Homo sapiens: one gene and its partner. The protein of the gene in region 1 interacts with the protein of each later gene in a pairwise test. Each region holds a gene or a part of one and is shown on either strand. Other genes may lie near its edges.

Region 1 (3,827 bases):
AGAAATATTTGCCAGCACTGCACTACTTAGAGACAATGAAGTATCTTGTCTACAGCTTGTCAAAAGAGGTACCAAAAAAAAAAAAAAAAAAGATATATGGGAGTCAGTCTCTGTAATATGGTTGTAACTTTTCTATAAATCTGATATTATTTCAAAATTTTTTATTACCATTTTATAAAAGATTTTTATAACTTAAAATGCATTTTCCTATGCTATATTGTATTTGGTGTTTCCCAAGCCTCCCCTGTACAAAGGCTACCTGTTAGACATTTTCAGTCAAATTTTAACATAGATTAGTTAGTAACTATATAGTCTGTAACTCTTCAGTGCCTTCCATTCCTCCTAGGTTATTGTTGTGGGTAATCCAGCCAATACCAACTGCCTGACTGCTTCCAAGTCAGCTCCATCCATCCCCAAGGAGAACTTCAGTTGCTTGACTCGTTTGGATCACAACCGAGCTAAAGCTCAAGTAAGAAAAATATATTTTAAATCTTGTGGTTGTTCAACTTTAAAACATTTTTCTCTCACTTTTAAAATAACTGAATCTGAGTTTGTGCTTTTTTCTTGTTTTTGTTTAGTAGGAACCTATTACTTTTATTAAATTAAAAGTAAATTATTATTCATTTGTTAGGGAGTCTTTAAATGTATTCTCTTAAAGGACCAGAGGCTGGACTTCCTACTTGATTTCGTCTTTAACTATATTTCAATTGCTAACTATAATGAAATGCAGTTACTAATGTTCTCTTGTTACAGTGGTTAAAAATTAGTTATACATGATGGTACATAATTTAGTTTAATTTTTTCAGATACATATAATCTCATATAAACAAAGACTTGAGCTTTGTGTGATTGTGTGGTTCTGCTTCTATTTTAGCTGCAGCTAAGCCATCAAATTCAGATTTTAATTTTTAATTTTATATTTAATTTTCATTTTATGTCTTTTTAATATTCTATGTGTATCTGTAAAATTTCCTCCTTTCACTACTTAGGAGCTAAAGTCTGTTGCTAATTTTCTTTACTCTTAGAGCCATAGATAAGTATGCCAAGGAGCCAGTGACCAGGGAATTAACAATAGCTTTTCAAAAAATTAGAAGCCAGGCAACTGATCTGAGCTAGTTTCCTAGGCTTTTTCAGATCTAACTGGTCCTGGTGCCCGTTCTTGGACAGAACCTCTTTCCTTTGCCCTAATGCTTTTCTGGCCATCCCTTCTTGTCTGTAGGTCATCACTGCTAGATAGGTCTATGAGTTCAGTGCTTTTTCTTCTAGAGAAGATAACTTTAGTTTCAAAAAAAAATTGTTGTTAACCAGAAGATGCTGTGAGGTCTAAGCTGAAGCACTACTGCCCTAACCTGAGAATTAATAATCCTTCAGCTCTGGAATGCCTAGTGAAAGAGAAAAGAATATACATTTGTTAAGCATCTACTGTAAATTGAATGCTATACATGTAATTTTCCATTTAATTTTTATAGTAACCATATGGGTATCTCATATTATCCCTGCATTAGGTAAGAAAACTGAGGCCCAGGGAAGTCAGAGAACCTGCTCAGAGTCATACAGCTCATAAATTACGGAGCCACCTTGATTTGCCTGACTCCAAACCCTTATGTATGTTCTTACCTAATGGTATCAACTAACCTTAGTCCACTTACTAGCTCTGTGATTTTGAGAAAGTATATTCAATGTTTAAAATGTAATAATTGTATCTACCTCAGAGAGTTCTTATGAGGATTAAATAAGATCTGTTTTAAGCCCTTAGCATGGTGCCTGCACATAGTAAATACAAGAAAGGTTGGCTGCTATTATTAGTTGATTTCTTCTTTCTAAGAAGCATACAGCCTAAACATTCCTAATTTAGAGGGTTGTTGGATAACAACCCTTAAATTTTTAGCTTAAAGTGCAAATATTCCCTGAGAGGCTATAGGCTGTGAGCTGGGTCTGGTGGTAGCTGAGAACGAATAGGAGTTTGTTTGAATGGCAGGCAGTTTGAGTTCTGTGGGACAGTTGTAAAGGAAGAGATATTATACATGTTACAGTTGCAAACTCTGGATTGCCAGAAAGTGACTTATTTAGTTCCTACAACAAGAAAGTTCCTACAACAATGACACTAACAACCACTTTTTGTTGTTTCACCTGAGGCTTTGGTGGAGACAGGCATTGGAAAATTCTGCTTCCAAAGGTACTTCAAAGAGATACTTTGTCCTGGTGCCTGAAACAGTTCTCACTGCAGGGCTCAAGTCTGAATGAGCAAAGAGGAAAGAAAGTGCTATCTCCTCAGACTTTAACCTTCACTTGGGGACATGTTCTTTGTTACTCCTGGGACCTTGGCTAGGCATTGTTTCAGCATGTCAATCTGGCATAGTGAGAGCTTTTAGGGAGTCATTGAAGAAGCACTTTCTTCCTCTAGAAGAAGTTGTTTATCCAGTGAGAAAAATAACAAACCCAAAGATAAGTTTTTCTTACAGGACTGGTTGCTAGATATTTTTGTCTTGGAATTCAGAGGCCTTAGCGACTTAGGGACTGTTTAACACCTGCAGAACTTGCCTGTGTATTTGCAAACCAGTGCTGTATTTATGTCTGCTGATAAGGTAATTTGACATTGATACCAGATAAGGTAATTTGACAATGATACCAGTTAGCTTGTAAGAAAATTACTAGGGCTGGAGAATTAATCAAAAACTTTTAACAGACCTATGTGACAGACATGAGTGTCTAAGGGAGCAAAGAGCTGTTATCCTGGGTATGTATTAATTTAGACTAATTGTGACATGAATCATATTAAGAAACTATATCTGCTGGATGCAAAGTACCTGGCCTTTGCTGTCCAGACAGAACTGGATTAGCTCAAGAGATAGAAGGAGCAAGAGGAGGAGGGCAACAAGAACAAAGGAAGGCATGGGAGCCAAGGAGGACTGAGGGTGGAGAGGCCTAGAGGCATTTTGTCTTCACTGTACTTGGGAGCATTGAAGCAGACATTCAGGGAAGTTATAGGCTCTAACTTCCTGGTAATATATATCTTGAGTTAATTGTTCAAGGTATAAATTTATCTTTTTCTATATACCATACCAGCTAAATTTAAGTATAAATATAAGAGCAGTTTCTTCCCCAGTTCTTTCTGGTCATGGCAGACGTAAAAAATGGTACTCATTGAACAGCGTGCCACTCTACCCTATCCCACAGGCTAAGCAGATCAATAGCTGGGTACCCCAGAAACCCAACTGTGAACTAATTTGTGGAGACTAATGCAAATATTGTAGATAATAGTCCTAATACTTGCAAGACTTGCAGGGATTAGATCGGTCAAAAGTGATTTACAATATCACAAACATAAATTTTTAAGTAAACTTTTAACTATTTTAGGATTTAAGAAAGCAGTCTCAACTAGTTTAAGAGTGGGAGTGAAAGTAAAGACAGTTTACTTCTTACTTAACTGAATAAATTAGTATGAAGACCAGTCGAGTCATTGCAGACATTTTAGGTAATGGCCTTTTTTTTCATCTTTATCCTTTTCGGTTGGTTGGTTGGGGTTTTTTTTTTTTTTTTTTTTTGCTTTTTATTTTGAAATAATTTTAGACTCAAAAGTCGCAAAAAAATAGTACAGAGAAGGCCCATGTACCCATCACCCATTGATGGTACCTTACATAACTACAGAGTATTATCAAAACCAGGAAGTTGATGAACTACACAATACTATTAACTAGACTTACTGAAGTTTCACCAGTTTTATATTCACTTATTTTTTTCTGTGTCTTTATGAATGATTCTATGACATTTAATTACAAGTGTAGATTCCTGTAACTGCCCCCATAGTCAAGGTACAGAATTTCTTC
Region 2 (3,827 bases), on another chromosome or scaffold:
GTGCTGACCTTATCATAGGTGTTTTCTCCATGAACTTGTACACCCTCTACACTGTGATTGGTTACTGGCCTTTGGGACCTGTGGTGTGTGACCTTTGGCTAGCCCTGGACTATGTGGTCAGCAATGCCTCAGTTATGAATCTGCTCATCATCAGCTTTGACAGGTACTTCTGTGTCACAAAACCTCTGACCTACCCAGTCAAGCGGACCACAAAAATGGCAGGTATGATGATTGCAGCTGCCTGGGTCCTCTCTTTCATCCTCTGGGCTCCAGCCATTCTCTTCTGGCAGTTCATTGTAGGGGTGAGAACTGTGGAGGATGGGGAGTGCTACATTCAGTTTTTTTCCAATGCTGCTGTCACCTTTGGTACGGCTATTGCAGCCTTCTATTTGCCAGTGATCATCATGACTGTGCTATATTGGCACATATCCCGAGCCAGCAAGAGCAGGATAAAGAAGGACAAGAAGGAGCCTGTTGCCAACCAAGACCCCGTTTCTCCAAGTCTGGTACAAGGAAGGATAGTGAAGCCAAACAATAACAACATGCCCAGCAGTGACGATGGCCTGGAGCACAACAAAATCCAGAATGGCAAAGCCCCCAGGGATCCTGTGACTGAAAACTGTGTTCAGGGAGAGGAGAAGGAGAGCTCCAATGACTCCACCTCAGTCAGTGCTGTTGCCTCTAATATGAGAGATGATGAAATAACCCAGGATGAAAACACAGTTTCCACTTCCCTGGGCCATTCCAAAGATGAGAACTCTAAGCAAACATGCATCAGAATTGGCACCAAGACCCCAAAAAGTGACTCATGTACCCCAACTAATACCACCGTGGAGGTAGTGGGGTCTTCAGGTCAGAATGGAGATGAAAAGCAGAATATTGTAGCCCGCAAGATTGTGAAGATGACTAAGCAGCCTGCAAAAAAGAAGCCTCCTCCTTCCCGGGAAAAGAAAGTCACCAGGACAATCTTGGCTATTCTGTTGGCTTTCATCATCACTTGGGCCCCATACAATGTCATGGTGCTCATTAACACCTTTTGTGCACCTTGCATCCCCAACACTGTGTGGACAATTGGTTACTGGCTTTGTTACATCAACAGCACTATCAACCCTGCCTGCTATGCACTTTGCAATGCCACCTTCAAGAAGACCTTTAAACACCTTCTCATGTGTCATTATAAGAACATAGGCGCTACAAGGTAAAATATCTTTGAAAAAGATAGAAGGTGGGCAAGGGGAGCTTGAGAAGAATAAAAGGGATAAACGAGCTCCTAGTTTTAAAATCTCTGCCATTGCACTTTATAGTCTGATTACAAAACGTGCAATTCAGGAGCCCAGCAGTGACACACTTATCACGCCTAGGCTCCAGTTTGCAAAAATTGCACCTTATAAACTGTCAGTATTAGGAGCAATGAGACAATGAAAGAAACATGTTGGGATCGTGGATTTAAGAAACTATACACTGTTTCTCATAATCTCTTGAAGAAGGGCTTCTGATTCTACAATTTTATCAGTCTCTGCACAAGAGGAATAACCTTGTTCCTTTTTTGTTACTTTTGTTGTTGTTGTTCTCATGTGTCCTTAAGAGAAGGAAATGCCACAGTTACAAGGTAAACATGGAGACTTAAACATAAAGAAATAGGCACTATACAATGGGGACATAAAAAAAGAAAATCAAAGAAGGATGCAGAAATTGTCTCCGGAGTGTTAAGCATATTTTATTCTTTTGTTACGGTCCTATTTAGAGGATTGGAATGTAATAAATGCTTATTTTTTGCCTTTCTTTTTCCCACCATGAAGAGAAAGCAAACAAACAGAAACCCCAACTAGGTCACACCATTTTTCTTCTTGTTATGCCACTATTTTGTACATCCCTGTTCTATATTGTTTATAGGGAAAACCTACAGGACTTTCACTAAAGCTAGCCAGAGACAGCCATGAAAATGGACGTTTCACCCCTCCTCACTGTGTCCTTTGCATTCGTTGGGGATATCAAGGTCTATAAGGATTTAGTGCACTTATAATCCTATATGCGAAATGTTTAAACCAATCTGATTTTCTCCTAAATAGCCTTTTATATCAACAGAATATCCTACCTAAAACATAAACCTGTTTAAGAAACCATCGTCACTGTAAAGTTGAGGTTTCATCAAATTAAATAATGGACTATCTAGTTGGACCAAGTTTATTAAAGTCAGGTGAATTTTAAGATTAAAAAATAGAAGTTTAGGACTTTCTATTTCAACCTGAATTTGCCTGACCCATGTATGAAATGTTAACTTATAGAAAATGAACTCCTGACTTTCTCAGCAGAAAGGAATGCTGTTTTATTTATTTGGAATCCTAAACAGGATTAACATACTCACATAGCACCAGTGATTTCTGGGCCAGTCCCTAGAGAATAGAACCTTCTATCCAATGCCTGCTAAAGGATGATATTCAAATTATAACCAAGTGAGGATGTCTGCAATTATCCTATGACCCCATGAAAGGGGAAAAAACGATATTTTAAAAACTATTACTGAAACAATTACATATTCCATATTCCTCAAATTGTCAATTCTCCCTAACATTATTTAACTTCAAAATTCTCTTATCAATAGAATTATAGTAATCTTTGTGACAGAAATGTAGTGGCTAACTAAATAGAGGCCAAACGAGCTTACAGAATCTGACAGAAGGAGGTAGGTGGCTGTTGCCATGCCACATCTCACCATCTAATTCTAGACCATAATAATCATGTCAGGAACTATTATCTAAGTGGTGGCATTATATAGAATCTTGCCACGTAGAGATTTTTTATTTGGTCGTCTAAATAAATATAGGATTAGGATTATACGGATTCACATACAACTAGTTATTTTTATCCTTTATATTTTTCTTACAGTATTTGCTGTAGTTTTCCAATGAGATTTTCTAAAAATGGCTCAATCAATGGAAATCAAATTATAAACGCATTTGCAAATTTCATATTTTGGATTTTAGATTTATGATATCTTGTTCAGTAATAATAATGTTAGTTACATGGTAAATTTATCAATATTAGACCCCAGCACTTAAAAGAATTATTTTGTATGATTAGCCTCATAGATGCCACCTCAACATTTTGGAGAGTTAAGGAGGAAAAAAAGCATGAGGGAAAAAAAAAACCAAAAAACTTATAAGTTAGTAAGAAGCAAATTGCCAGCAGTATTTATATTTGACTTATCCTTCGTAAAAACAATTTCCTGTTTAAATAACTTCAGTCATTACCCCCCCAAAGTAATCTTCCATATTTAAAGCATTCATTTATAGAGATTCCCTTACCTACAGTTACTTCAACATGCACTTTTACATTTTAAATTCATATTTATTTTCATATTGTTTCTTCAAATGAAGGAATCAGTTGAACGGAAATAACGTCAAGCCAGTGGGCTCCTCGAGTTTCTGAAAACCAGAGAATTGACTAGCCAAGTATTTCCCTTTTTAATGTATTGTATTATTATTATGTAGATTTGGCTTCAGTTGGGAAGAACCCTTTGGCATCCAGGATTCAGGATTCAGGGTCTTTTTTTGTTTGCTCTAATAATCCAACGCACCATGAATCAAGCTTTTAGTCTCTGCTGCCATTGTATCCTTCCTTTTCCTCCCTCTGTTATTGATCCTTGCCACAGCCACTGCAACCTCATTGAAAGAGAAACTGTCACTTTAAAGAAAGAAATTGAAGATAGGCTGACACCATGGAAACTACGTCAAACAGATAAGAAAAATGGAAGGAATACTGAAAATGATAGATGATTGGAGAGATATGGAGATTATATTCAAGGATTTTTATTAACCACTGCTGGA

The links.
Region 2: the proteins of MDH1 (region 1) and CHRM2 interact in a two-hybrid assay, tested with the Homo sapiens proteins (one large-scale study listed by BioGRID and IntAct).

The regions. Positions count from the first base shown.
Region 1 is NC_000002.12:63,598,824-63,602,650, forward strand, and holds part of MDH1 (malate dehydrogenase, cytoplasmic), read left to right. Parts: intron 1-346; coding exon 347-469; intron 470-3,827. UniProt on the Homo sapiens protein: Catalyzes the reduction of aromatic alpha-keto acids in the presence of NADH. Plays essential roles in the malate-aspartate shuttle and the tricarboxylic acid cycle, important in mitochondrial NADH supply for oxidative phosphorylation.
Region 2 is NC_000007.14:137,015,065-137,018,891, forward strand, and holds part of CHRM2 (muscarinic acetylcholine receptor M2), read left to right. Parts: coding exon 1-1,202; 3' UTR 1,203-3,827. UniProt on the Homo sapiens protein: The muscarinic acetylcholine receptor mediates various cellular responses, including inhibition of adenylate cyclase, breakdown of phosphoinositides and modulation of potassium channels through the action of G proteins.